Homo sapiens: one gene and its partners. The protein of the gene in region 5 purifies or fractionates together with the protein of the main gene of each other region. This does not show direct contact. Each region holds a gene or a part of one and is shown on either strand. Other genes may lie near its edges.

The links.
Region 1: the proteins of LOXL2 (region 5) and MAP4K3 purify together in Homo sapiens (affinity purification with mass spectrometry; 2 studies listed by BioGRID and IntAct, with this or other methods). This does not show direct contact.
Region 2: the proteins of LOXL2 (region 5) and PPM1B purify together in Homo sapiens (affinity purification with mass spectrometry, with the first as the bait; one large-scale study listed by BioGRID). This does not show direct contact.
Region 3: the proteins of LOXL2 (region 5) and SPRR2E purify together in Homo sapiens (affinity purification with mass spectrometry, with the first as the bait; one large-scale study listed by BioGRID). This does not show direct contact.
Region 4: the proteins of LOXL2 (region 5) and CSTA purify together in Homo sapiens (affinity purification with mass spectrometry, with the first as the bait; one large-scale study listed by BioGRID). This does not show direct contact.
Region 6: the proteins of LOXL2 (region 5) and PIP purify together in Homo sapiens (affinity purification with mass spectrometry, with the first as the bait; one large-scale study listed by BioGRID). This does not show direct contact.
Region 7: the proteins of LOXL2 (region 5) and CCDC7 purify together in Homo sapiens (affinity purification with mass spectrometry, with the first as the bait; one large-scale study listed by BioGRID). This does not show direct contact.

The regions. Positions count from the first base shown.
Region 1 is NC_000002.12:39,430,316-39,434,530, forward strand, and holds part of MAP4K3 (mitogen-activated protein kinase kinase kinase kinase 3), read right to left. Parts: intron 1-4,215. UniProt on the Homo sapiens protein: Serine/threonine kinase that plays a role in the response to environmental stress. Appears to act upstream of the JUN N-terminal pathway.
Region 2 is NC_000002.12:44,199,732-44,203,946, forward strand, and holds part of PPM1B (protein phosphatase 1B), read left to right. Parts: intron 1-1,454; 5' UTR 1,455-1,468; coding exon 1,469-2,314; intron 2,315-4,215.
Region 3 is NC_000001.11:153,092,383-153,096,157, forward strand, and holds SPRR2E (small proline-rich protein 2E), read right to left. Parts: upstream 2,145-3,775; 5' UTR 2,102-2,144; intron 1,389-2,101; 5' UTR 1,370-1,388; coding exon 1,151-1,369; 3' UTR 753-1,150; downstream 1-752. UniProt on the Homo sapiens protein: Cross-linked envelope protein of keratinocytes. It is a keratinocyte protein that first appears in the cell cytosol, but ultimately becomes cross-linked to membrane proteins by transglutaminase.
Region 4 is NC_000003.12:122,331,611-122,335,825, forward strand, and holds part of CSTA (cystatin-A), read left to right. Parts: intron 1-4,215. UniProt on the Homo sapiens protein: This is an intracellular thiol proteinase inhibitor. Has an important role in desmosome-mediated cell-cell adhesion in the lower levels of the epidermis.
Region 5 is NC_000008.11:23,369,348-23,373,562, forward strand, and holds part of LOXL2 (lysyl oxidase homolog 2 precursor), read right to left. Parts: intron 1-4,215. UniProt on the Homo sapiens protein: Mediates the post-translational oxidative deamination of lysine residues on target proteins leading to the formation of deaminated lysine (allysine).
Region 6 is NC_000007.14:143,130,550-143,135,212, reverse strand, and holds the start of PIP (prolactin-inducible protein precursor), read right to left. Parts: upstream 3,137-4,663; 5' UTR 3,097-3,136; coding exon 3,002-3,096; intron 20-3,001; coding exon 1-19.
Region 7 is NC_000010.11:32,452,167-32,456,381, reverse strand, and holds part of CCDC7 (uncharacterized protein C10orf68), read right to left. Parts: intron 3,039-4,215; coding exon 2,946-3,038; intron 132-2,945; coding exon 48-131; intron 1-47. UniProt on the Homo sapiens protein: May play a role in tumorigenesis.

The DNA of each region.
Region 1 (4,215 bases), on a different chromosome or scaffold from region 5:
TAAATTTATGGTCAAATCTAAAATTATTCTATAGAGTTTAAGGGCTAAGGTAGGCAGTACATTATTACATTAGGAAACCAAACCTATAATCAGGTCAAGGCAGTTAGAACTCAGAAATGTGGCATCTTCCAGAACAAAAAAAGACTAAAAAAAACCTAAAGCAGAAAAGAAATATGATTTTTGTACATATAAAGGTGGTATGAAAAAATAAATAAAAATTAAAAAAGAAACATGATTTCATCTCTTGAATCGAAGGTTTTTTTTGTATTGGTGAACAAAGTCCTCTTCCTAAAAGCCCAATTTAATCGTATTTTAAAAAAAACAAAATAAAAGTCATATGTGATAGCCTACTGCTGTATTCACTAGTCAGTCACTAGGGGTATTTAGTTCAAAATGACGGAGTATCTTCATATGCATATAACAATTATGAACATTGCTTAATATGCCAAAGATACATTAACCCTACTGATTAGATTTAAGACCTAATAATAACCCATTACATTTAACTCATTCTGTACCCACTATTGCCAGAACTCTAAGTCAAGCCCAATGCCACCTCCTCTGCAAGGCCTGCTGTGATTTCTCCCAGTCAGAAATAATGATCTCCTTCCTCTAAACTCATGTAGCCATGGTTTGTTCCTCTCGTGTTGGTTCATTTATTCATTCCATAAATATTTATTAAGAACCTAATATGGGTCAGCTACTCTTCTAGGCTCTGGGGATACAGCAATGAACAAAGCAAAATCACCAGTTTCCTGGATTTATACTCTAGTGGGAAGAGACAGGCTATAAACAAATAAACATGTGGTGATACATGCCATAATTAAAAATTAAGTAAAGAGTCCAACTGAATTTTTTGTGAAGCTAACAAAACTTAAAGTTCAGGCCCCTTCACTTGCATGGTCCTCTATGAGTGCTGAGAGTTGCTGGGACATGTAGAGTATTCCAGGTGGAGACAGGGAGCCAGGGAGTCATCAGAAAGCATTTTTTTGTGAGCATTTGTGATTAAATGCCTAAGGAAGTCTCAGAAGAAAGGGACCTAAGGTTACAGTATTTTGTTGGGATATCTTTTCTCATTCTAAAGATTCACTTTCATACCTTTTTTAATTCTAGTTTTGTTTTCTTAATGAGGGTCCCCAAAACTGCATCAACTTCAGGTCCCGTAAAACCTGGATCCATCCCTGAACTGTATCCCTGAAAGTGGTGGGAGAAGTGCTGTTTTTTGTAGGGTGGAAAGGAGCAGGCTCATTAAAAGATGACATTTGAGCTGAGACTTTAAACGAAGAAGCAAGCCAAACAGATATTGGTGGGGAGGGGTGGATTTTAGGCAGAGACAGCAAGCTAAAAACCCTGAGGCAAAGCATGAGGAATGCAGTTGGTTAGAAGGACAGTAGGAGGAGAAATACATAATAATAAATACTTCTAGACACTAACAGCAATTAACAATGACCACACTTTTTTGTGTCAGGTACTGTCCCAAGCACTTTTCTAAGCATCTCCATTTTACAGCTGAGGAAACTGAGACACACAGAGAGGGATTAAGTAATTGGCCTAAGGACAAAGCTAGTGGGTGGTGAAACTAGGCAGCCTGGCTCCAGAACCCTGTTCTCAAATCACTATGCTGTGCTACAGAGGTCGGTTGTGCAATTATGGAGTATCTAGAGAGTCTCTCAGCCAGCAAGAGATTTAATATGATATAAATGAGGAAACCAAAAGGTTCTGATCTCAAACTATGACAGCTAATAGCAGGTACACATTTTATGTTCCTGTAAATACCAAGTACCAAGCCTTGTCATTTCTGCTACTCTACTCACAGTTCATAACACATTTCCTCTCATATTACAGCTGTTCAATGTATGATGGCTGTTCAATGTACTCTCATGAGAGAACTTACTATTCATTCTTAATACAAAATGATGCATTAGATACGTTTCACCAATAAATACATATACAGATCAAAGGCTGGAGGTAAGTACTTCCTTTAGGTAATCAGATCTGCATCAAAGTCAGAAAACCTGTTTGTTTTTCAAACACTCTAGAAAAATTACCTCGCTACCTGTTTCATTGTCACTTTTCATCTCAAATAGCAACTGATGATGGGAAATTCTACCTTATTCAACTTCAAATGATCTTTCTGAAGTTTAGGGCCATTTCTTCTGGTCTCTCTAGAGTCTATTAGAGTCTATCCTAAATGGAAGTAAATAGAAGTGAGCATAACTCCAAATAACAATGTTTGAGCTTCCTTCAAATGTTCTTTTCTAAATGCTTAAGGTCTTCATATTCCTTATCCGTTAGGTTTAAGAATTGAGTTTTCCAGAAAGGTTCTCACAAATGCTGATTATAATGGAAGAATTAGTCTATGATGATATTAAATAGAACACCTTGAAAGATGCATAATTACAAATAAACTAACACGTAATTATCTAAATGCATATAAATTGGTTTCCTTATTTTACTGCCCAATCCTCACCTTTTTTCCTGCCAGCTTTCACAGACACTTTAAATCTATTTACACAGACTACGATGTGAATCCTACCTGGAAGCTTAACAACACGGCAGCCCGTGCTTCAGAGGGAATGGCTTCCAAACACACAAAGGTGAAAAAAAATCAATATCAACGTTTCCAAAGCATGTTCTACAAAACACTAGTACTAAGGACAAGCAATATGTATTACAGAGAAAAAGAATCTAATAGTCAAGTAAGTTTGGAGTTTGCTAGGTTAAGCAAAGTTTACCAGGTTTCTTTACCATAGGACTTCTCAGTCTTTAACCTACTCATGGTATGGCTTTTCCTGAAGCACCCCAACCACACTTTGGAAAATGCCTGTGTACAGAATTTAGCTAATGCCTAAGAAGCCCAGTCCAGAAGTCACTAAAGATGACTCTAAGGCTTACAGCCTGGAGTCTTTGTGTATCCAGTCTTGGATACACAGGCTAGGAATCATTCACAGGGACCAGACTAAAACCATAAGACTAGGTAAGATACTTCCTCAGAAACCATATTGAGACTATTCTTTCAAAACTTCTTTTGCCTTATCCCATCTCCAGCTTTACTATCTCCTGCTTCTTTCTAGCAAAAAATCTAGAAAAACATAAGGACATCAAGACTTAAAGGGTAGGAATAATAAAAATTAAACTGGAAAACTGCCTGACAAAAGATGGCACAATGCATGTGAAAATCATATTATGATCTATTATAACTACCTAATTTCTCCAAGAAAACTTTTTTGAATGGCAAACCTATGGATCATTTTTTCATTTTTTTGGATCATGAAGCTCTTTAAGAATGCAATGAATGCTATAACCCATCTCCACAGAAAAACACAAATACATACAACATTAAGCCTATTAATTTCAGAGCACTCCATGGGCCTCCTGAGGCCCAACTAAAGAGCTTCAGTTGCCAGCTCCTAGGTCCCTAGGTAACCCAAGCTGCAGGCACTTCATGACAGATAAAGCCTGCAGAGTTACACGACACTTACAAGATACGACTTTAGACAGTGCAGATAAAATGTATATATGCATTGGCCTGAAAAAAATAAAGATAACTTACTTACTAAGTAAAATTTGAGTCATTTAGTCAATACCAAAAGAAGAAGGGCATATGATGGTAATAATATCTCCACAACAAAACAGCTCTGAGAGGTTGATTTCACAAGGTCACATAGCTAATAAATCCCAGATTGTCCACATCCTTGTTCAGTGCTTTGGAACTAAACCACGCCACCTTAAGTACAATAAATATGTTATTACATTGAGTAGGAAAACATTTTCAAAATAAAAATCTCCACCAACCTTCCAAGAATGACTATAATCGGATCTCTTATTTATTTAATCCAATCATTCCATTTTTAGCACGTAAATGCTGACAAATTAAGGAACAAATTATATATATTGGCTTTTGAAAACAAAATGTACTTCTCTCTAGCACAATTAATTTGTATAAATAAGAAAAAACTAAAACAGCAAAACAAATAACAAAAAAATGTAACTTTATAGAATAAACTTGATTATAGACAAAAACATAAACAAGAGTTTGGCAGGCAGGGGTACATGATGTCAAGAACCACATGAAGTTTCTCTGCTTTGGTCACTGGTATTGGAAGAGTCTGGCAGGCAGGGACCAAGCATCTATTATCTGATATCCACTTGGCAGACTACATAAACAGTGAGACCTTGTGGCACAGCAGGAATTAGGTATTCCAACTACTACTT
Region 2 (4,215 bases), on a different chromosome or scaffold from region 5:
TTTTTACATGATTTTAATCTTATCCTTTCAGGACTCTTTTTCTATAAATACATTTGTAATTTATTAATACAGTATCACATATAACCCAGGAAAATTATAAAACTGGTATGTAACTTATAAATATTTACATATATATATCGAGTGGTTCATCAGATTTTTTTAAATGGCGATATGTAATTTTATTGTAAAGTTCAATAATGATCATACCTGGAAAAAATCTCACAAAGATACGTAGACCCAAATGGAGGTAAATTGATCTAGACCAGTGTCTCTCAAAACTTTAAATCACCAGCATGCTTTTTTGATGATTCCATCTAAGATCTATTGAAAAAAATCCTTAGGTGTGGGAATAGGGCTATGGAGTCTGCATTTTGAGCAGATATAACAGCAAACATTTTATGGTGTTTATTGTGTTTTAAGTGCTGTTTTAAGCACTTTACATTGACTCATTCTTCACAGCAGCCCTATGAGGTATAGGTACAGGTGACTAAGAAATTTGCCCAAGGTCACCTAGTTAGAGTGTAGGGTTAGCATTGTATGTAGAAAACATACCAGAGAATTCTTTTGCATACTTTTGGGAACCATTACTCTAAGTCTAATCTAAGTCATTTGAAATTGGGAAAGCTTTATTCTATAAAATAGTAAAGTTGGGTAGGCGGGGAGAGGGTGATGCATAGTAGTACTTTCCAATTCTAAGGATTTTAAGTCTTTGTCAGTCAACACTGGGTAGCTACTTCATGGATTTTAAGTTCAGCAAAGTGAAGTCCATTTTTTAGCACCATGTTAAAGGTATGTTTTTAACAGAATCAAAGTAATGATAAGGTTTTCAGTTTTATAGATATATAGTAAAAGTGATAAAACCAAATGTGTGTAGAATGGAGATTTTTATGTTTTAATTGAATTTTGGGGTTGTCTTTAGGTTCACTGGGAGGAGAAATCTTGATTTCAATACTTGCTTTTGAAAGTCTTCTAAAGTATATTAGTATACCTTCCTACCTTGATTTATTGAACAAGATGACTCACTGTTTTGAATATTCTCATTGTCCAGTCTTCTGTAAACTTACATGTCGAACCCTAGACTCACCTTGTAAATTAAATCAGAATGAAATTATTAATGAAGTTTTATTTCTTGTTTTTTCCTTTCTCCTAGAACAGTGGTCTCAACGTGGCTGCACATACAAGTCACCAGAGAGGCTTTTAAAAGATGATATCTGTGTCCCATCCCTAGGGATTCTGATTTAATTGGTCTGATTATTCTTACGCGCTAGGGCTGAGAAACCACTGTTCTGTAGGATGTAGGGGAGGAAATTTCTTGGGCTTTTGTTGTTGCTCCCGTAAATTAGGATAATACTAAAAAAAATACTTGAGGTAGGAGTTACTAGACTATAGAGGGAATATTGTACATACATTTTCTGTCAAATTTAAACATTTAACACCTGCATTTTTTATTTCAGATTTATTGCTAAACATGGGTGCATTTTTGGATAAACCCAAAACTGAAAAACATAATGCTCATGGTGCTGGGAATGGTTTACGTTATGGCCTGAGCAGCATGCAAGGATGGAGAGTGGAAATGGAAGATGCACACACAGCTGTTGTAGGTATTCCTCACGGCTTGGAAGACTGGTCATTTTTTGCAGTTTATGATGGTCATGCTGGATCCCGAGTGGCAAATTACTGCTCAACACATTTATTAGAACACATCACTACTAACGAAGACTTTAGGGCAGCTGGAAAATCAGGATCTGCTCTTGAGCTTTCAGTGGAAAATGTTAAGAATGGTATCAGAACTGGATTTTTGAAAATTGATGAATACATGCGTAACTTTTCAGACCTCAGAAACGGGATGGACAGGAGTGGTTCAACTGCAGTGGGAGTTATGATTTCACCTAAGCATATCTACTTTATCAACTGTGGTGATTCACGTGCTGTTCTGTATAGGAATGGACAAGTCTGCTTTTCTACCCAGGATCACAAACCTTGCAATCCAAGGGAAAAGGAGCGAATCCAAAATGCAGGAGGCAGCGTGATGATACAACGTGTTAATGGTTCATTAGCAGTATCTCGTGCTCTGGGGGACTATGATTACAAGTGTGTTGATGGCAAGGGCCCAACAGAACAACTTGTTTCTCCAGAGCCTGAGGTTTATGAAATTTTAAGAGCAGAAGAGGATGAATTTATCATCTTGGCTTGTGATGGGATCTGGGATGTTATGAGTAATGAGGAGCTCTGTGAATATGTTAAATCTAGGCTTGAGGTATCTGATGACCTGGAAAATGTGTGCAATTGGGTAGTGGACACTTGTTTACACAAGGTATGTAAACTTTTTTGTCATTAAAATAACATGTTAATTTTGAAAAGTTACGGTAGGTAAAGTTAAGCTAACTTAAAATTTTAAAACTTTTAATATTTTCACAGAAGCTGTATATTTTGAAGTACTTTACCAGAAATGAAACCATTGTTTTCTTTGCCATCCTTGTTTGTCCCAGCCTTCTAATTTGAAAATTAAGCTTGATAAATTTGAGGCATTTGTTGTCATTTAAGTACTTCATAGCTTGTTGCTGTAGCAAAAGCATTTACACAGAGTGACTTTTTCTTGACATTGGCAGTAACCATCTTATGCCTGATTATGAAGCAGCTTGATAAAATATGTATATAGTAGAATTCTGTACTAGATATTACTAAAAGATCAAGAGCCATGTGAAATATTGGAAGATGTACTAGATGCCTAGCCTGTATAAAATTTAGTCCTGAGCCTCCTAGCAGTGAAGACAAAAACTGAAATAAAAATATGGGTTGTATATTTCTCATTGTCTTCTAAAAGCAGCTCTTATCTGGCAATACAATCTAAAAAGGATTTACATGTGGCTCTCTAAGTAATACATGACTTGGATAGTATCTTTTGTAGAAGATAAAATTCTTTTCATATAGATGTTTTTATTATTTCTGATTAAAAACCAAAGGCTTCTATAAAACATAATCTTGTGAAAAATTCCTGTGGAACACTAAAGTTTATTTAGATTTGTAATTTTGTATGAATCATTGCTTGATACAGTAATAGAAAAAAAGTCCAGAGTAATAGATAATTGGCAATCCTTTGAATATCTTTAAAATACTCAGTTGTTTCAAGTGGGTTTTTGACAGCATCTATATATAATTCAATTAAAATTTGAGTTATCTGGCCAGTGTCTGGAGTGTGTAAGTATTTGACTGAAAAGATACCAAGGTAAAACTGACCTTTAGTTACATGAAATAAATAAAGGGTTTGACTTATTTATTCTGTCTAGATTAGAACCACTGTATCTCCCTACTCCAAAATGTACTGTGGAAGGTATGGGCATAACCAGAAAGTTTTTCAGAAAGGATCTCTGGGTCTCTGGAAATGCCCAGATTTTGGTTAAATACCGATTTCTTTTTAATAGAATGGAAAGAGGCAGTTTTAAAAACAGAAGATTTAAAGGCCGTTCTTGTCAGTGGACAGCCTTTTTCTGAAAGGATTTTAATGATGGTACCTCTAGCTCCTCTGATTTTTATTTTTAACACACTGTATCTTTTTACTTCTGGATGAGTTAAGTAAAGAAGTATTGATGGTTGTCAGTGATCAAATAGTAAGTGGGTCTAAAATTATGTATTTGTCTTTGAACTCTAAATGAAGCAATTCTGACCTGTAGATTTTTGAGACAAGCATAGGCATATGTTTGTTGCCTGACTAGCTAATGAAAACAGCATTTTCCCCAATTATAAAAAAAAGGTATATACTTACTATTGGAAAAAAAATCCAGATGATGAAGAAAATATAGAGAAACACCCAAAATTTTGCCATCCACCCTAAGTCAGCTACTTTCATTGTTGTGGTGTATATTGTTCCAGTCTTTTCTGCCTGCCTGTGAGTGTGTGTATTTTTATAAAACCGAGATGATTATACTTGTTATTCTACAGCCTGCCTTTTCCAACAATATATTGTAGAGAGATCTCCATGCCTATAAGTATTGATCTGTATCATTTTTCTTGGCTGCGTAGTATTTTATTGAAAGAATGAGGTTGTGAGGGAATAGCCAAAAAATCTATTAGGTCTGTAATTTGGACTAAGGAAAGAAGTTTGTGTTAGTAGATTAACTCACTTATCCATTGAAAGGATGCTAGTTTTTGAGAATTTTGACTCGACCCTTCTGAATGAGGTTTAAATATTTCTGGTGGTATATCTTCACTTGCTAG
Region 3 (3,775 bases), on a different chromosome or scaffold from region 5:
AATATCCCGGCTTTATCATTACACATTTGATCCATGTAACAATATATCACACGTATCCCAAAAATGTGTATAAGTATTAGGAACCAATAAAAACAGAGTCTTCGATAGCATTAGGAGTTATACCTAATGCTAAATGACGAGTTAATGGGTGCAGCATACCAATATGGCACATGTATACATATGTAACAACCCTGCATATTGTGCACACGTACCCTAAAACTTAAAGTATAATAATAATAAAATTTAAAAAAAAACAGAGTCTTCTTATTTTTTATATTAGTTACATCCAAGCCACTCTATTGCTGGAACAAATATGGTAGTGGTTGTCATGGGGAGTGATGATGATGATGATGATGATGGTGGTGGTGGTGGTAATGGTGGAAACAATGATGATATGTTACTGCCAATAAACTTCTAAAATGACAGCTAATTATGTGTCAGGCATTGCGACAACAAAATTTCAGATAGTAATTAGATTTATCCCAAGACTAGTTTGTTAAGTAAATGTTATTTTGGTCGCTTTGCAATAAAGAGATTGACATTCACAGAAGTTGAATAATATGTTCCTCAAATCAATCAAACACTAATTAAGGAAAATAAAAGTGGTTTAAATAATACAGACATAATCTTTGATATGACCCAAATTTTAAGATTCTGACTGTGGTTGAAAGAAAGGTGGAAATAAACCCAAATGATTATATAATTTTACTAATAAAGCAGATTTGAAAAGAAACAAAAGATCCATTCACAAATACGTATGCAAAGATATTTTATTCAGGGAGTGAAAGAAAAGTGACAATTGCACAGGTGTTAGAAGCCCATGCCCAGGTGACAGACAGACACAGAAAACATCAACAGCATTTTTTGATGGTTCCCAGGGACAGAGCTGCTGGTCCTTCTTCCAAAGCTCTGGGAACTGACACTGCTGAGGACTTCCTTTCTCAGTCTCCACCTGGACAGTGGCAATATGGCAGCCTCAGAAAGGAAACCTTTTGCTATCAGGGATCATCATGGGCAGATCACTGGCTAAGAGGAAAGAAGCTAACTGTGTATCCATGGTAGGCTTTGATGAGAAGATGCAGGTGAAGCTGTGGAACAAGGTGAGCCAATTATCCTTATCCTTTCATGCTCCTGATGAATTCTGAAGCTGTTACTTGCTCTTGGGTGGACACTTTGGCTGGCAGGGTGGGGAAGGTGTCACAGGAGGACATTTTTGCTGGCACTGCTGAGGTGGGCAGGGCTGTGGACACTTTGGTGGTGGGCAGGGCTCAGGGCACTTCGGGGGTGGACATGGCTCTGGGCACTTTGGCGTGGGGCACACAGGAGGTGGCTGGCAGGGCTGCTTGCACTGCTGCTGTTGATAAGACATCCTGCTGGAGTCTCAGAATCTGAAAGAAATGATATGACAGTGTTCACAGGAATGGACTCCTCCAGAGAGAGAAGCCAAAGCTTATGTAATACCATGGCATATTATTTCTCCAATCTCCAAAAATTTATTTAAACTCTTAGCTCTCTTTTCATGACTTCCTGTCTTCTCCTTTCCACTTTAGCAAGTTGTTTCATCAGCCCTAGGAATTCCTGCCTTTCCTCATACAATTTTTCCAAAGAAAACATCTCTATAATAAAGAAGCAAGCATGTTATTCCATGAAAATGACATCTTCAGGAAAGGCAGTCACAAGTTCAGACCTCCTGGGCAATCTCACAAGCTATTCCTATCATCATTATCTGTTGTAAAGCACCAGTGGGTTGACTTGGGCACAGAGCAAGGGCTGTTCAGGAAGAAGTACTGGCTCTCACACCTGCTAAGACACAAACCTTTGAAAAGGATACCAGGAAAATATGGAAAAGAGAAAAATACTTCATCCCTTTCTTCAAACCAAAACTTTCCTATTAACTTCTCTGTCCATATGGACATATAATTGTACATTTTTTAAAAATCTGTGTAAAACACTGTATCATGTAATCTAATCCTGTAGTTCCATCAACTAAGTACCATCAAACCTATGATCACAGGTTTGGATCCACCAAACTTGCTGGATTCAGGTTAAATTCAACACTTCAGGGCACAAAGAACAGAGGAACTCAAGGAAGCAGACTCACCAGGTTCTCCAAAGCAGATCAGTGCTCAAGTACCAGGAGTTTAGGAGTTGTAGAGCAGAGAACCTCTTTATAGGGCCTGCTACCCCACCCAGCAGGAAGTGGAACTACCCAAAACTGGGCTGGCCCAGCAATGTCCCAACTAAAATGCAAATCTATCCATAACTGGCATGACAGGGATTCTCAAACTGGGAAATATCCTGTTCTGGGATCTTTCCACTGGATTAAGTGCCCTGACTCACTGAGGCCCTGCCTTAGATCTCAGTTTCAGTGACAGCAAAGAGGGACTTGGGGGATTCTCTAACTGGTGGTCAAGGGCTCTCTTTCTTGATTGGGGGCAATGAATGCTTCCTGTCTTACACATTCCCTAAATCATAAAACTTCCTGCCCTGATCCACTTTAGCTGAATGCCATATTGTTTGTACATGAACCCATCTCCACCTCTACTTTCCTTGTACAATTTGCCAATGTGCTAGAAGGAAGGAGAGACCTAACAAAGGCCTGAGTTCTGGCCCCAGATTTTTTTGCTAAGCTGTATGACCACAGCCAGGTCAACTCTCCTCCCTGGAACTGTAAACAGAAGAGCATCTTATTTACCTCTGGGTTTGGAGGCACTGACCACATTGTGCCATCTGTTGATCCTGTTCAAGCCTGAAATTTTCTGCTCCACCTCTTTCTCTTGCAGAAACCCAGATTTTACCTATATTCCTTTCCTCTTTGAGGGTTGTCTTCTACAACCCTCAAAGAGGCACTTGTGTCCCAAGATAGATACCAGAGTGAGATCCAGTCTCTCCAGTACATTTGCCACTGCTACCATCAAGGGAGTGTACTACAGGCTTTTCATTTGTAAAACTGTACTCTTATTCACCACATTAAGAAAATGGAGAAAAGGGAACCAAAGTTACAAGCATTCATTTTAAATCTATGTATTGAACCATGCCTGTATGTTTCCCTGTGAACATCATATAGAGAACAAGATGCATAGACTCACAGTATCTTATGTAAATAATTAGAAGTTTTCCAGAATAGAGGTCAGAGCACTTAAAGTCTGAAATCTAGGGGAAAATATAAACTCAGTGTGATCCTATGTGTTTGCTTTCTCTACCTCTCTTTCCAAACAGGTTTTAGTCTTTGAAAAATGGTATTTTTTAATTTGTTTGTATGTTCTTCCATTGTCTTTTCCAAAAGCTCTCTAGCCCCACAACCTGCTAGATTATCAACTCACACCCCAATGTATACCTCTCATCTGTTCATTTTAGTACACATTGTTCACTCGATACGTATGTTGTCAATGTGAATGTCTTTCACATCTTTTTAAAACTCTTCCTGCAATCAATGGGGCTTACTAAACATTGTATATTAAACATTTAAAACAGTGCTGCTGGAGCTTTCTTATCTGGGCTAATGATCAGGAAGCTTTCCAAGAATGTGATTTTATAATTGGAGAAGAAGAAGGAAGAGGAAGATAAGGAAAAAGAGGAAGAGGAGTGACTCAAATTCTTTGGAGCACTCACCAGCTATGCTCCAGATAGAGCAAGAACACTGAATCAACCCAGCATCACATCTCTCAGTTAAGCAGGTTAGGTTTCCAGATCTGCAATTGCTCCAGTCTTTAAGGAAGAGCTTTTGGCCAAGATCACTGTGGCCAGATGCTGCAGAAATACAACTATCATGTCA
Region 4 (4,215 bases), on a different chromosome or scaffold from region 5:
AACTTTGCCAAAGCGAGGTGCAGAACCACAGAAAACTCACCATTACAAACCTGTGGATTAATGCTTAACAACCCGGACAGGACCCAGGGCTGCCAGAACATTCTTGCAGTCATATTTGTTGGTCTTTTTCTAGAAACCCCACAAATGTAAATCTCTCTTCAGTTGTTCATTGCCTCCCACCCCCATGGTCCCTCCAGCAGGATGTCTCAGTTCCTACTCTTCTTAGGCCAGCTGTCCCCAACCTTTTTGGTACCTTTGTGGAAGGCAATTTTTCCACAGATGGGGTGGAGGGGATAGTTTTGGGATGAAGCTGTTCCACCTCAGATCATCAGGCATTATTTTCTCATAAGGAGCACGCAACCTTGATCCTTTGCATGCAGTTCACAATAGGGTTCCCACTCCTATGAGAATCTAATGCTGCCGCTAATCTGACAGGAGGCGGAGCTCAGGCCATAATGCTCACTGGCCCACTGCTCCCCTCCTGCTGTGCAGCCCGATTCCTAACAGGCCATGGATGGGTACTGGTCTGCAGCCCAGGGGTTGGGAACACCTGTCTTAGGAGATTGCAGATCTCTGGTAAGAAAATGCCCCAGCTGACCCTATCTCTTGCTGGATCTCATTCCTCCCTAGACTCTATTCTCCTCTCTTCAGCCAGTCCTTCCTCTCTTAGCCAGGTGACTTCATTTCTTGCATCCTCAATGCCTTGTCCCATACTTCCTTCTTCCTTCAAAACATACTTAGACAATAAATGTCCACAAGTCACATCTTACTGGCCCTACTGTCCTTTCATGTTACTATTCAAACTCTCCTTCCTTACTCTCTAAATCTCCCCCAAATGTAATTCATCCACTTTGCCATCAATATCTTTCTATCTATTTTCTATTAAATTAGGCACAGTCCTATTGTTTCTGTAGAATGACTACAGATTAGGGGAAAAGCCTGAGTGTTGGGTGCCTCATGGCTCAAATCCTCAGATCTCAGAGAATAAACACCTCACCAAGATTCATGCTCAGTAGCAATGAGAAATGCTTGAAGAACTCTGGGTTAAATGCATTATACCAGGTGCTTCTCCCTGGTAGCCTCCTCCCCGGCTGGAGACCAAGCGACAAACCTCCACTGTATTCCTTGAGCTCCCGTCACCATCACGCGTGGCAGACTGAGAAAGGTGAAGGCCAACTGCATTCAGCAGGAGATGTGTCCGTTCACCGCCAGTCTCCCACCACCGTTCCCAGCTGGCCTGCATCCTCCTAGTGCCCATCCTGGGGAGTCTTTCAGCACCAAGCTACCTTCTGAGACTTAAGTTTCACTGACAAGCTCCCCTACTCTGCCCCTTTCCCTGCTCCTCAGCTCAAATCTCATCACTCAGGTCCATGTCATCTAACATTAAACCATGCAAATCTATTTTACTGGGAAGAGGGAGGGAGGCTGCAAGTTACAAGTAGAGTGAACCAGAAATCAAGGTCCACAGTCTGACAGGTGCCAGAACACTTCAAGAAACAAACCAGATCTTTTAAATCCCCTCTCTCATGGAAAATTCTGCATTTGTGGATTACACAGATACGATGGAAAAGTTAAAGATTTGGATATATTTCTAGGACAGATAGAAATAAAAACTTAGGGCCAGGCATGGGGGCTCACCCCTGTAATCCCAGCACTTTGGGAGACCAAGGTGGGTGGATCACCTGAGGCCAGGAGTTTGAGACCAGCCTGGCAAACATGGTGAAACTCCATCTCTCCAAAAATATAAAAAATTAGCTGGGAGTGGTGGCAGATGCCTGTAGTCCCAGCTACTCATGAGGCTGAGGCAGGAGAATTGCTTAAACCCAGGAGGGAGAGGTTGTAGTGAGCTGAGATTGTGCCACTACACTCCAGCCTAGGTGACAGAGCAAGACTCCATGAAAGAGAGAGAGAAGAAAGAAAGAAAAGAAAGAAGAAAGAAAGAAAGAAAGAAAGAAAGAAAGAAAGAAAGAAAGAAAGAAAGAAGAAAGAGAGAGAGAGGAAGGAAGGAAAAGGAAAGGAAAGGAAGGAAGGAAAAGGAAAGGAAAGGAAGAAAAAAGGAAGAAAGAAAGAAGAAAGAAAGAGAGAGAGAAAGAAAGAAAAAGAAAGAAAGAGAAAGAAAGAAAGAGAAAGAAAGAAAAGAAAAGAAAGGCTGGTTGGCTTAGGATACGTGCTTAAAAAGAAACATGACTGAAAAGCAGAAGGAACACAGATCAGATATATAAGTTATCATGCAAGGACTTTAAAATAACTATGTTGAATAATTTTTCAACTTTAAGCAGTCATGCTCAACTCATAGCCTTACATTCTCCATTCATAAAATGAGGTTTAAATGGATACTTTGGGGGTTAGTGTAGAGATTAACTCTTTCAAACTCAGCTCCTAACTTGACTGGTGCCAAGTACTGGCCATCCCTCCTTTGGAATTTTGAAAGGCTTTGGAAAGGGACCCTAAGACAATAACCTGTTTCCTTACTCTACTTCTCTGTGCATCCTTTCTCCGCTCTCCTGCCCCTAGCTCTTCCCACTTCTGGTTTGTCCTCACTATTTGTCTTCTCCCTTTCTCCACTTTGAAATTTCATTTCCATCTCAACAGAACAATCACACTTTTCCCGTCTATTCTCAAGGTTACAGGAGAACTGAGTGGTGGTCCGTGGAGTGTTTGGCCTTTCAGAAATGGTCTGAGAACTCACAGTTTGCATATGTCTACATCTTTGAAAACAGTTCTGGTACTCAAACTGAGGCATCAGTAGTAAAGGTTCAAAACATCTGCCCAGGGAGGATTGTTTGAGTCCGGGAATTCGAGGCTGCAGTGAACTATGATCACGCCACTGCACTCCAGCCTGGGTGAGGGGGAGATTCTGTCTCTTAAATTTAAAAAAACAAAAAACAAAAAAAACCTGCCCACTGATAGGAAGGACTGCCTTGGGAGAATCCTAGATGGACTGGAGGCCTGATTGAAGTTGTATGGACATGCAATGCTTTCATGAAGGGCATAAAAGCAAGTTCTCAATAAACAAGGTACATTCAACACAGAGAGTTATATCCTTTTTCCTCCAAAAGACAGAAAAGAATTGGGGTTGAAGGACAAATCCACAGACATAAAGACAACAGGAGATAGGCAAGTACCACCTCAGAAATACCAATAAAATTTTGGAAGTTGGAAAACAGATGAACAATGGAAAATGCTGAGCAGTCTAAACAGAAGCTAAGCCCATAGAGGGGAAAGTCTAAGCCAGAAGCAAGCAGATTCACACTGCAGAACGTCACAATGGCGCAGGCATGAGCAACACCAAAAAGTCGTAGCCAGGAGTAAGGTCTCAGACCAAAAGCAAGAGGACTGATCTGTATGAAGGACAGTGAGACCTCCCATAGTTCCTTCTCCCTCACTGTCCTCCACCCCGGCAGAAGACGAGCTTTACACTTAGCAGGAACTGAGTCAAGAGCTCATAGTAGACTCTTGCATATCAGGCCCAGCTGAGAGTGGGAATGAAGCACTGTACAGAAAGTTGATGGGCTCAGTAAAAGTTTACATATTGAATTTGGGACTGTCTCCCTTCTCATGCTGGGTTCGGGAATGCTGACATTTAAACCCAACCCATATCCCTCCATGGTAGACAGAATGATGGCCCTCCAAAGATGTCCATGTCCTAATCCCTGGAACCTGTGACTAGGTTCCTTTACACAGCAAAAGAGACTTTGCAGGTGTGATTAAGTTAAGGCTCTGGAGATGGAGAGGTTATCCTGGATTATCCAGGTAAGCCCATGCAATCACAGGGTCTTTATAAGAATTATACCCAAATACTGCACTCTAGTTAGTATATTGTTTTCCACAGGGGTATAGGTCAACAATTCTGAAATTATTTTATGTATATGCTAGAACTGAGAAAATAGGCGAATACATTGCAAATAATAAGAACCAGGATTCTTCCTCAGTGTTTGAGAAAGGAGTTATAATAAGGAAAAGGGAAAAGCTAAATGAGTCCTGTGGTATTTGATTTATTTTATTATTTATTTATTTATTTATTTATTTATGTATTTTGAGGCAGAGTTTCACTCTTGTTGCCCAGGCTGGAGTGCAATGGTGTGATCTCGGCTCACTGCAACCTCCGCCTCCCAGGTTCAAGCAATTCTCCTGCCTCAGCCTCCTGAGTAGCTGGAATTACAGACACCCACCATTGCGCCCAGCTAATTTTTGTATTTTTAGTAGAGACGGGGT
Region 5 (4,215 bases):
AGAGGAGACGATTTTAAAAGGAGCACACGTGTGTCTTGTGGAGAAACATGCAGGGCCCCAAACCAGGATGAGCAGGTGGAAGCTTAGGTGGGGGCATAAGGTATTTTATTTTAACCCTATGCAGAGGAGTAGGCTAATCATATTCTTCTGGTCATGGCACACTACCTTTGAGGAAGGACTGGCTAACTTTCCTGTAGTCAGAGCTGTCCAGAGCTGCCCATGGAGGGATGATCTGCCTTGGAGTGAGGCAGTTCCATGTCTGTTGGGTGACCAGCAGTGCTCAGTGCCCCGAAGAGGATGCTGGGGTGGAGATGTTAGAGCCTGGGGGACAGTCAGAACTGAGGATTTTGGAAAGCTTTCTGATGTCACCGGAGAGCCAGCCATGCTCATCCTGTGACTAACAAACAAGGCCAGAAAGTGATGGAGGGTTCCTGTGATAGCTCCTGACCAACGGACCAACGCACAGCCTGACCCCCTAGTAGTGTGGCTCTGAAGGGAATCAGGGTCCTGGCCACTCATCATTCCCATCAAAGCACATCTGCATCCTCAAGCTTACCTATGCCTCACAAGAACCTTGGGGAGTAGAAGAGGCAGGTATTATTAGGATTCTTATTTTACAACAAAATCAAGAACCAGAGAGGGTTAGAGATTTTGCCAGAGTTGCACAGTTACTGCAAGCAAAGCCAGAATGGGTCACTCCCAATGTGCCATCCCATATAAAAAGTCCTGGTTCAGCTTGGATACAAAAGCCTTTATGTGTGGCACGTGCCTACCTTCCCTGCTTCGGTTCCCACGACGGTGTCTCCCTTCTCTCACCCCAGCCCTGCCCATGGCACACATCCCATCATATCAGCCTATACCAGCTTCAGCTTTTGACACCTAGAACAACGCGCCTCCATCCCCTCCCCTCCCCTCCAAATGGCACCTGGTGCAATCCTTCCTGTTCTTCACAGAGACCTTCCTAGGTCCTCCTATCAGATTGAATGTATTTCTGCTTCCCTTTGACATCACATTTTGCTGGTGCTTTACATTGTTGTCATGTCTGGCTCTGCCACCGGACCCTCAGGCCCAAGGGACAGAAACCACCTCTTTGTCATTTCTGCTCAGCAACACATCTGCCTCTGGATGTATCAGGCTACCTTGCAGTAGATAAAGCTACCTGCCAAGAACAACTAGAAAAGGAAGGTAAAATATTAAAAACATATGTTCGAAGACACGAGAAAGCTACCGAGGCACCAAGGACTGAAGGAACCAAGAATCCAGAGAGATGGGAAGGGCATTGAGGTGAGGCTCACTTTTGTCTCTGCTTTCCCCCGGAAGATACTCGCCAATTCCACGGCAGTGATCAACAGGCTGAGAAGCTAAGCAAAGCTGCAGGCAGCCTCCAGGGACTGGGGAGACCGGGAGTTCAGAACCTGCCAAGGACAAAGGGACCTGTTAAACAGCTCCAGGCTCTCAGATGCATTCCTGAAGAGCTGCACTCTAGAAGCCAGGGCATAGGAAGGTCTGACATTCCCATAAATGGAATCCCAAAGAAGAGGAGAGAAAGGATGTGCAGAGGAAATAATGGAAGAAATAATGGCCTAGAATTTTCCAGAATGACAAAAGACATCAAGCCCACACAGTATAGTTTACAAGGAAAACCACATCTGGGCACATCGAAATCCAACTGCAGAGAAGACAAGATAGAAAGAAAAATCTTAAACACAGGGTAGAGGAGCTGAGTTACCTTAGAAAGAGCAGCAGAAAGACTAACAGCTGGTCCCCTCAACACAAATAAGGAGACAAGACTTCAACAGCGCAACATTTTCAAAGGGCGGAAAAAAATAAGTCTGCCTAGAATCTGTGCCCAGTGAAGAGAACGAAGGTAAAATAAGGACATCCCAGATAAACAAAAGAGGAGCGAGTCTGTCACCAGAATACCCACAAGACGGAAATACTACAGGGAATTCTTCAGGCAAAAGGAAAAATCATCCCAGATGTCAGTAAGGAGGCGTAGGAAGGAATGAAGAGTATGAAGTAGGAAATGATGTAGGTAAATCTCAATGAAGATCGAGTGTGTAAAACAGGAAGAATGTCCTGTGGGGTTTAAAATACATGTATGATTAAAATGCATGGCAACTGGCTGGGTGCAGTGGCTCACGCCTGTAATCCCAGCACTTTGGGAGGCTGAGGCGGGCGGATCACAAGGTCAGGAGATCAAGCCCATCCCGGCTAACACGGTGAAACCCCGTCTCTACTAAAAATACAAAAAATTAGCCGGGCATGGTGGCGGGCACCTGTAGTCCCAGCTACTCGGGAGGCTGAGGCAGGAGAATGGCGTGAACCCAGGAGGTGGAGGTTGCAGTGAGCCGAGGTCACGCCACTGCACTCCAGCCTGGGCGAAAGAGTGAGAGTCTGTCTCAAAAAAAAAAAAAAAAAAAAAAAAAAAAAAAAAATGCATGGCAAGCGCAGCACGAAAGGCAGGAAGGCATTAAATGGAGCTCAAGTGGTTTGAGGTTCTTGTGTTGTCTGGGAAGTGGTAAAAGTACTATTGTCTATTAGACTTTAGCAAGTCTAATAAATGCATGTTGTAATCTTTATAGGAATCATTGTAAGAACCATATACTGAAAGAAAAGTACAACTAACAGGTTAATAAGGGGGTTTGGGGGAGAAATGGTAGAATTAAAAAATACTTGATTAATCCAAAATTGAAGCAATAAAACAAATAAAAAGTAACATAAAACAATTGTTACAAATAGAAAAAATATTAGATGGTGGGTTTAAACTCCAATATATCAGTAATTACATTAGATAAAATAAATACTCCAATTAAAAGACAAAGATCATCAGAACGAATATAACAAAACAATTCAGCTTTACATTTCTTTTTCTTTTTTTTTTTTGAGATGGAGTCTTGCTCTGTTGCCCAGGCTGGAGTGTGCAGTGGCGCGATCTCAGCTCACTGCAACCACTGCCTCCTGGGTTCAAGCGATTCTCCTGCCTTAGCCCCTCGAGTAGCTGGGATTCCAGGCATGTACCACCACGCCTGGCCAATTTTTGTATTTTGAGTAGAGATGGGGTTTCACCATGTTGGCCAGGCTGGTCTCAAACCCCTGACCTCAAGTGATCCATCCGCCTCAGCCTCCCAAAGTGCTGGGATTACAGGTGTGAGCCACCACGCCCAGCCCAATCCAGCTTTATATTTCTTAGAAGAGACACAGAGGCTTAATGTAAAAGGATGGAAACAGATATACCATGCGTACATTAACCAGAGGGAAACTTGTACGATCAAGCTGACCTTAACACAAGAAACATTACCAGAGACAAAAAGGGACAGTTTACGATAATGAAAGTCAATCCACCAGGATAATGTAACTCTTCTAAACGTACGTGCATAGCTTCAATATATATAAAAGAAATATTGATAGAACTAAAAGGAAAAAATAGACAAATTCATAATCAGAGTGGGAGATTTTTACACACCTCTGTCAGTAACGGATAGAAGACACAGAAAAATCCTGGGGTTGAAGATGTGAATGACATAATTAACAAACTTAACCTAATTCACAAGTTTCTATAAACTGTACTCAGCAACTGCAGAAGGCAGCTATGCTCCAGGGACACATGGAACATATAATGATACAAACATATTAAGATATTAAGATACAATGATATTATGCAGAATATGTTGTTTGACTACAACAGAATTCAGCTATAAACCATTAATAAAAGAACAAGTAGAAAATCCCCAAATATTTGGGAATGTTGGATGAGGAAATCTATTATCATGCATCTCCATCCAGCTCACAGTACTAAATTGATTTATTCATTCAACAAGAATTCATTGAGCTCCTACTATACCTCAGGCCCTGCTGGGAGTAGAGGTCTTCTTTCCCATGGAGCTGACTGCCTAGCTGGAGTTCGCCTACAAGGTATCAATGATTGTTCATGGTCTGAACTACCTGAGCCAGCGGAGGGGGGGCCTAACTTTGAATTCAGGAAGGTTTTCCTCTTCTACACTGCCTGGCAGGGTCTTGCCGTGTCACCCAGGCTGAAGTGCAGTGGCGTGATCATAGCTCACCGCAGCCTCGAACTCTTGAGCCCAAGAGATCCTCCTACTCAGCTGCCCGTGTAGCTGGAACTACAGGCAAGAGCCACCATGCCTAGCTAAGTTTTTGGGTTGCTTTTTAATTTTTAAATGTATCCATCTTGTGGAAATTAAAGACAGAAAG
Region 6 (4,663 bases), on a different chromosome or scaffold from region 5:
CTTTATTATGATCTTCCGACTGATTGTGGGAAGAGAGAATCAGAACACCAGGATCAGAGACCAATCTTTGAGTGAGGGGGGAGCCATGAACAGGGCAAGGGGCACAGGATGGGCAAGGGAGGGAAATTATGGGGCTTGGATCAATTGTTCAGCATTGGAATCCCCTGGAATTTTCATGTGTTGATTGGATTGGTAACTTCACACAGATTTAATTTTGTTTAATAAAACAACTAGGACACTTTAAGATTCCTTAAAGAACTAAAAGTAGAACTACCATTTGATCCAGCAATCCCACTACTGGGTATCTACCCAGAGGAAAAGAAGTCATTATTTAGAAAAGATACTTGCACATGCATGTTTATAGTAGCACAATTCACAATTGCAAAATCATGGAACCAACCCAAATGCCCATCAATGAACGAGCATCTTCTTCCCTTCCATTGACCAAAAACAAGTTTTTAAAAAGAAAAAATGTACAATACCACATGCCACTTCCTGATAACATCCTACAGGCTCTGGTGGTTGTCTACTGAGTAGGAGGGCTCAAGTCATTATTAGGAGAAAATTTTCTAGCAACAGAATCACATTAAACCAGCAAACCTCTTGATCAGGGAAATGCAAATCAAAACCACAATGCGATACCACCTTACTCCTGCAAGAATGGCCGTAATCAAAAAATCATAAAACAGTAGATGTTGGCGTGGATGCAGTGATCAGGGGACACTTCTATACTGCTGACGGGAATGTAAACTGCTACAACCACTATGTAAAACAGTGTGGAGATTCCTTAAAGAACTAAAAATAGAACCACCATTTGATCCAGCAATCCCACTACTGGGTATCTACCCAGAGGAAAAGAAGTCATTATTCAAAAAAGATACTTGCACACACATGTTTATAGCAGCACAATTCACAATTATAAAACTGTGGAACCAACCCAAATGCCCATCAATCAACGAGTGGATAAAGAAACTGTGGTATATATATATATATATATATATATATATATATATATATATATATATATATGATGGAATACTACTACTCAGCCATAATAAGGAATGAATTAACAGCATTTGCAGTGACCTGTATGAGATTGGAGACTATTATTCTAAGTGAAGTAACTCAGTAATGGAAAACCAAACATCGTATGTTCTCACTGATATGTGGGAGCTAAGCTTTGAGGACTCAAAAGCATAAGAATGATACAATGGACTTTGGGGACTTGCGGGGAAGAGTGGGAGAGGGGTGAGGGCTAAAAGACTACAAATATGGTGCAGTGTATACTGCTCGGGTGATGGGTGCACCAAAATCTCATCACCACTAAAGAACTTACTCATGTAACCAAATACCACTTGTACCCCAGTAACTTATGGAAAAATAAAATAAAATAATAAAAAATTTTAAAAACCCAGCAAACATCTCAATGCACTGGAGGTATTTGTAGGAGCATCTTTGAAGATCCTCCTTCTGTGGTCCCCAGGTAGGGTTTAGGAATTTGTATTTATTTAGCTCCTTAGGAAATTTGGACATATGGCCATGTTTGGGAACTTTAGATACTACTCTACATTTAGACCATACACTGCAATCTGAAAAGGAAAGGAAATGGAGACAAATAAAATGGTCAAATGTTCTTCTTCAGTCAATGAGGACTGGGTTCGGGGCCAGGAGAGTTATTTTCTCGTCCCTAGAAACTCCCGGCTACGGACCTTTGTTATTGTGTGGGACAGAAGGGAATTGAGATTCTTAGCCCACAGTGTCTCACAGCCCCATTTTCTTGGGGCAAAGCATCTTAGAGAGATTCTATTTTTTGGTGCCAACTGCTGTAGTGCCCAGTGCACAGGAAAAGGGTATAAATACCTAAGCAACTTCAAAATCTCTCCCATTTGTATATGAGTTTCAGATTGATAGGATGACCAGCTTAGTTCGAGTGACTAACCATCTCAGTTTACCCAGGACTGAGGTCTTTTCCAGAATGGGTTGTGGAGGTGGCGGGGGAGGGCAGAGTTGCAGTGCTACAACCAGGAAAGTTCTGGGCAAATCAGGATGGATGGTTGATAACCTAATTAGCATAGCTTATTTGAATACCTTGCTGCCCTTCAGGGCTAAGTGGACTGTCATCTGGCGGGAATGGGGTGGGATCTGAACCTGTCCCCATGCAGGGTTTCTTGGGACACTTGCCTCCATTACATTAGCTTGTCAAAACCCTGAACAGTTTCCTCCAGGACAGGATATCTGACCATGCCATAGAGAGTACCTCCAAGATCACAACCCAGAAACCCAGCATTATAAACCCTACTGCTATAGAGAAAACTCCCTAGATTGGGTATCGCTGCTTTCTCCCAGACCCTTGGCTCCATTTTCTACTTTATTTTACTTGCTCCAATTTTTCTGCTTCCTTCACACATGTGTTCTCAATAAGTTGACTTCTGAACCTGTGCTCTCAGGTCCCAGTATACGTGAGAGCAAGAGGTCATCATATTCATCTTCAGACTTCAGGTTAGGAAGAATGTCTAAGCTGCCAGTCTAGCTCAATCTCAGACCACAGGGCAGTGGCCAGGGCCTCTGGTCCTTTAGCCAGTCCTGCCAAAGCTGCCCTAAGCTGCCATTGGAATTCACAGACCTGTTATGCTTCTCTTCTAGGAGGCAAGGTGTGAGAAGGTAAAGTTTACTGAGCAGAAATCTGAACAAAGGTATAAATTATGAACAAGATGTGGATCAGCATGTTAGATGAAGACTAACTACTAATTACAGCCTGTAGGTACATTTGGAGCTTTATTTCCACTGGCAATGCAGAAACACCCAGCAAAAATGTGAGAGGAGTTGGTGGGGCTTCCTAAGAGGACAAGAAGTGGAACCTGGCAGGAGATCCATGGGAGCTCCTGGGACTAGAGTTCTGGGAAGTTGAAAGAAATTCTCAGAAAGAGATATGTAATTTCCAGACTGGGAGAGGAGCCCTCCCTGCAATTTTTTTTGTGGGGAGGAGAAGGGCATGGCTCACGTGTTGTCCTGAGCTTTGTTGGCCCCCAACTGCAGGCAGAGAACCAGGAGCAGGGTGGCAGGGCTGGCCCTGAACAGGAGCTGGAGCAAGCGCATGCTGGAGAAAACAGAAGGCAATGTGTCCCAGAGAAGTGGTGTCCCAGGTGCCCAGCACATTTCTTATATACAGATTGATCAAGGAAGTGCAAGAGCTGCCAGGGAGATCCATGAGGTGAATCACCCATTCACCCTCCCCACTCGTGATCTTTCCTTGTTGACCCAAAGTTTGTTTTTCTAAGAAAAAATCAACACTCAGCTAGAATGTCAGCGTTTGAGAGAGGAGTCAGATTGTTCTTCCTTATTTTTTCAGCATCAGAGTTTCTCAAAATGGCTGGGACCTCAAAAGATACACCAGTTTTTCCCGAGTTTACAGATTCAGTTTTCTTTTCCCTCCTAATTTGCCTGTCTGAAGTGCTATGTGTAGTCTTAGCTTCAGTCACTGCTCCCCTGGTCTCTGAAAGCAGAGAACACAGCTGTGGTGGCAGGTTTCAGACCAGAGACATAGAACATCTTTGCTTGATCAAATTATAGTGAGTTCAAGATGCAATGCTATTCAAAACATTTCTTGGAGGGCTAGGATGATCAGGACTTCCCTAGCAGTCACTACCCATCATGAGGTGGAAGAGCTAGAGAAGACCTGAGCTGCTCTACATGATGGGGAAGTGAGTTCAAGACACTGGGTGATGTAAAGATGTTTATTGTCATTGAGTCCTTCTTAATTTCAGGTGTGGTTGCAATATACTGCAGATGTCCAAGATCCCCAGCTGCCCCACAATCCCCAAGGCAGGGTGATATTTTAATTCTAGACAATTCCTATAAATAGCTGGCACCCCCAAATCAGACTTCTTGGCACCAAAGAGCTGGCTTATTTTCTTATTGACATGGCCACTTTCTTACACTTGTCTCATGCGTAAGCCACACAGGAAGAACCACAGTGGAAAGGATTCCTTCTGTGAGAATGGAGCCCACATTATGTCCAGTAGATACCCAGGTTGTAGAATTCCTCTCCTTGGGATGATGGGGAGACTTGCTCTTGCTGACACTGGCATTGTGTTATTTCTCCTTATGAAATTAAATCTGCTCCTTAACCTATGACTTACAATACTATGGGATTTGTTTCTATCATTTGCATGGCACACAGCTGCCCAGGAAGAGCCTCTCTGGCAACAGAGTGAAAATCAGAGTTCTAGGAGTTACCGCCTCTGTATGTTGCTTTAGCCAGGATTCAGAGCTAAAGTGTAAGTGTGTGCTTCTGCTTTCTGGATGTATCTCTCAAAATTGCTCTGTCTGTTTATTCAGCTCCTGGATCTACCTTCTCTTTTCTTTGAATTGGACACCATTCATGTCATTGCTCACTCAGAACTTCAGCTGTTCTCATGATCACATGCTTTCTTCCCTGTTTATGTCCTATCCACTCAAGAACACTGCTTGTGAGGGTCACAATGACCTTCCTTTGTAAGCCTTTTCCCACAATTAAATTGTCTTTACACCTGGTCCTTCTCACTTGCATAATTTCCATTTGAAGCACATCCTAGCTACACTGACCAAGGCAGGCATAAGGCAGAAGAATCTAGGAAGTGTCTGTGTGGGAAAATGCAGGAAAAGTTCTTTGCTTGGCTCTTTG
Region 7 (4,215 bases), on a different chromosome or scaffold from region 5:
GTACAAGTTTGATATTTTATACTTGACAGTATATACAGAATACATACATTTTGTTCTTCTTTAAGTGCTTCTTCTAGCTGAGCTGCAAATTGCGAACAATATGTCAAGAATGAATTCATATCATCCCCAACCTTTTGAAAAGAATAATAAAACATAAAGTTACATTTAAGAATCCATATGCATGTCTGTCTTTTTCTAGCATATTTACTTTTTGAAAAATTTTAATTTTGTGTAATTTATGTCCCTTCAAACATTTACAGCAAGAAGCCATGCTTCAAATGCCATACTAGCAAATTCTCCCAAAGAAAAAATATGAAAGAAAGTACACTTTGGGAAGTGGCCCATCAGTGACATATACCCAGCCATGTCTCTCCTCTCATTCATCTCTACACAGTTCCAGAAAATCCAGCATCCCAGCCTCATAGTACTGAAATTTCTGGGTGGCCCAATAAAAGGTAATCATTACCATAAAAAAAAAAATCTCTTGGTGTTAGAAAATGACTACTACCTATGATACCTAACTGTATAATTGCCATGAACTGCAGTCTTCTGCTCTCACCTAATGGGCAATACACAACTTTGAGGAAAAAATAGTTACAGCTTAAATGTCATAACGATCAAATCCCTTCTAGTAAAGCAGTGATTCGTAAATCAGAGAATTGACTCATGATAAACAAATATTACAGGCTTATATACAGTTAGGATTTTCATAGAGTGGTTCTCCATGAAGAATATATTCCCTGAGCATTACATTTAAAGATACTGAGCCAGGCGCGGTGGCTCACACCTGTAATCCTAGCACTTTGGGAGGCTGAGGCAGTTGGATCACTTGAGGTCAGGAGTTCAAGACCAGCCTGGCCAGCATGGCAAAATCCCGTCTCTACTAAAAAGACAAAAAAATTAGCTGGGCGAGGCGCCGCACACCGGTAATCCCAGCTACGTGGGTGGCTGAGGCACGAAAAGCGCTTGAATCCAGGAGGCAGCAGTTCCAGTGAGCCAAGATCACACCACTGCACTCCAGCCTAGGTGACACAGCGAGACTCTGTCTCAAAAAAATAAAAATAAAATAAAATAAATAAATAAATAAATAAATAAATAAATATGCTGAGAGGCTCACATACTTCTTGTCACAATAAAGACCTATAATCATATAGGAGACGGGGAAAAAAAACTAAATCATCCAGCAGAGAGGAAAATGAACAGATTAGTGTTACTAATCACAAATATAAAGAGAAACTATTAGCCTACTTCTTCCACCCACATTCAGGTGCCACAAATATAGAGAAGATAGAGAAATACAGAGAAGATAGAAATTGATTTGACCAAGTTTATAATGTAACCAAATGAGACCAATAAAGCAGAACAGGGCAAGAGAGTTAAGTACGTGTGAAAGGGAGTGATGATAATAGTGGACCATGCTATTTAAGCTGGGTAAGTAAGGGCACAAGGAGGATTTCGGACACTAAAAAGGCAGCAAGACCAATGGATTATGTTTCCCTGTGAAATCAAAGGATTTTTGGAGACAGAATATTGGACAGACTGAGTGGGAAAGACAGGAGGTGGTGGCCACAGATTAGGATGACTGAAATTCAAATTATGAAACAGTTATGGTAAGGACTACAGGATATCACTTTGTCCATTAGTGGTTGATGTGAAATAAAATACAAGATCATTGGAGGAAAGAAATTCAGTAAAATAAAGGGGATATCCGAAGGGCTGATTTCTTCAATTTTGTCAGTATTGGAGACCACAGGAAAGTGAACTTAATTTCATTTTATTTTATTTTTTTGGTGGTTTTTTTTTTAACTTTTGTTTTAGATTTAGTGGGTACATGTGCAGGTTTGTTACCTGGATATACTGCGTGATGCTGAGGTTTGGGGTACCAATGATCCCGTCACCCAAGTACTGAGCACAGTACCCGATAGCTAGTTTTTCAACCCTTACCCCGCCTCCCTCCCACCTCTAGTCATCCCAGTTTCTATTGGACTTCAATTTCAGATTTTAGTTTTGGTTCTTTGATTCATTCCTGGCAGGGCTTCAAAACATAATAACCACAAGGTCATGCAGGATAAGGATTGTGATTACATAGTCCTTTTAATAGTTGGGTAATCACCACCACAATAAAAATATAAAACATTTCCATCATTTCAAAAAGCTTCACTGTACTCCTTTGCAGTCAATTCTCCCCTCCTACCTTAGCTCAAGACAAACACTGGTCCTTTACTACAGTTTTCCCTTTCCCAGAATTTCATATAAATAGAATCATATGATATGTAGCCTTATTTATTTAGCTTCCCCACATCCTAATGTTTTTGAGATTCATCTACATTGTTCTATGTGTCAGTAGTTTGTTCCCTTTATTGTGAAGAGTATTTCATTGTATGCTATACCACAATTTGCTTATCCATTCACCAGTTAGTAAATATTTGGGTTGCTGGATTCAGTAGCTATTCTGGCAGTTACGAACGAAACTTCTATAAACATTTATATACAAGACTTTGTGAGGATGTATGTGTTCATTAATCTTGGATAACCACTTAAGAGTGGAATTGGTGGTTATCTTTTAAGTATATGTTAAACTTTGTGAGCAGCTGTCAAACTGTTTCTCAACATAGCAGTACCATTTGTGTTCCCACCAGCTCTGTATGAGAGTTCCTGTGGCCCCATATCTTTACTAAAATGTGATTATTCTCTATCTTTAAAATGTTGGTCATTCCTAATGGGTATGTAGAACTCCTTTTCTGCAAACTTCTTGGCAAAATTCAGGTCAAGAGGGATTTGGTTGGGTTGAGTAATTTTCTAAGAGGATCATTTTCATGGATGGGAAATTCATTCTGAGGATATAATAAGTACTCCAAAAGAAAATATTTTAAATTTATATTTTTAAAAAGAAAATCGACCCTTTTCAGTGTTAATGTCTCTATATTAGGGTTGCATATACTTACAGATAAAGATAATTCTTCATGTTCATGCTTTACAAATGGTTCTTCTCCATTCTGATCGCAATGTCCATAGGTTTCTTCCAAAGTGGAAACAACCTGTAAAAAAAAAATAAAAGCCAATTAGATACTTTAATAGTTTAAAATTAATTATATTAAATGTAAATAATATTTAATCAATTATGCCAGGACCTTTTTACCAGTAAGACTTATTTCTTCCAGTGCCATAAACTTAAATTTTTCATCCCATACCCAATTTCATGTCATCATGAGGAGAAAGCAATATTCCTTAACCCTACTCCCTAGCAATAGAGAGATGCTCTATGACTCTACCATTTCTGTGTTGATAGCTATCTTAAAACGGAGAGGGCCTGTCCATGAGTGGTTGAAGCATTAAGTAGAGTTTTCCTCAAAGTCTGCCTTGACTTTCTCCTCTGAAGAGAGTTAGGGGAAATAGAAAGATGGAGACCAGAAAGCAATGAATTTTTAAAGAAAATTATCTGGCCTAACCCCTCAAACTTTCAACAAACTTGTACTGTACAAGTTTGATGTACTATATATTTTTTTATATTTGTGCTCTTCCTCATTGTTATTTGGTACATTTACAATTCAATTCTGGATTGCAGTGAAAAAAATAGAAACTCAGAGAAAGGAAATTTTTTCCCCACATCAAGAGCTAAAGTTTCAGCCAGGCATGGTGCTCATGCCTGTAATCCCAGCACTTTGGGAGGCCAAGGCGGGTGGATCACCTGAGGTCAAGAGTTTAAGACCAGCCTGACCAGTATGGTGAAACCCCATCTCTACTAAAAGTACAAAAATTAGCCAGGCATGGTGGCATGCTCCTGTAGTCCCAGCTACTCGGGAGACTGAGACAGGAAAATTGCTTGAAACCTGGAGGCAGAATTTGCAGTGAGCCAAGATCATGCCACGGCACTCCAGCCTGGGCGAAAGAGCGAGACTTCATCTCAAGAAACGAAAAAAGAGCTAAAGTTTCTGAAATGCAGAGTTTAACATAGTAGAAATGCAGGACTTAGGAAGGCCTGCTTGCAAGGTTGGCCTTAACCTGGCATCTGAGATCCTGGATTTCAGGAGGGTTCTCCCCATTCACTGATAGAAGCAGCTCACTGTCCCTAAACTGTTTGTATAACATTGTTTATACTGAACCTCCTTTCCTTGTGAGAGTCTGAAATTTTCGTACATGCTAAGCACAGAGTGAATAGTAAACAACCCCCAATAAATCCCAGGGCACTGAGTTTCTAATGATTTTCCCTGGCAG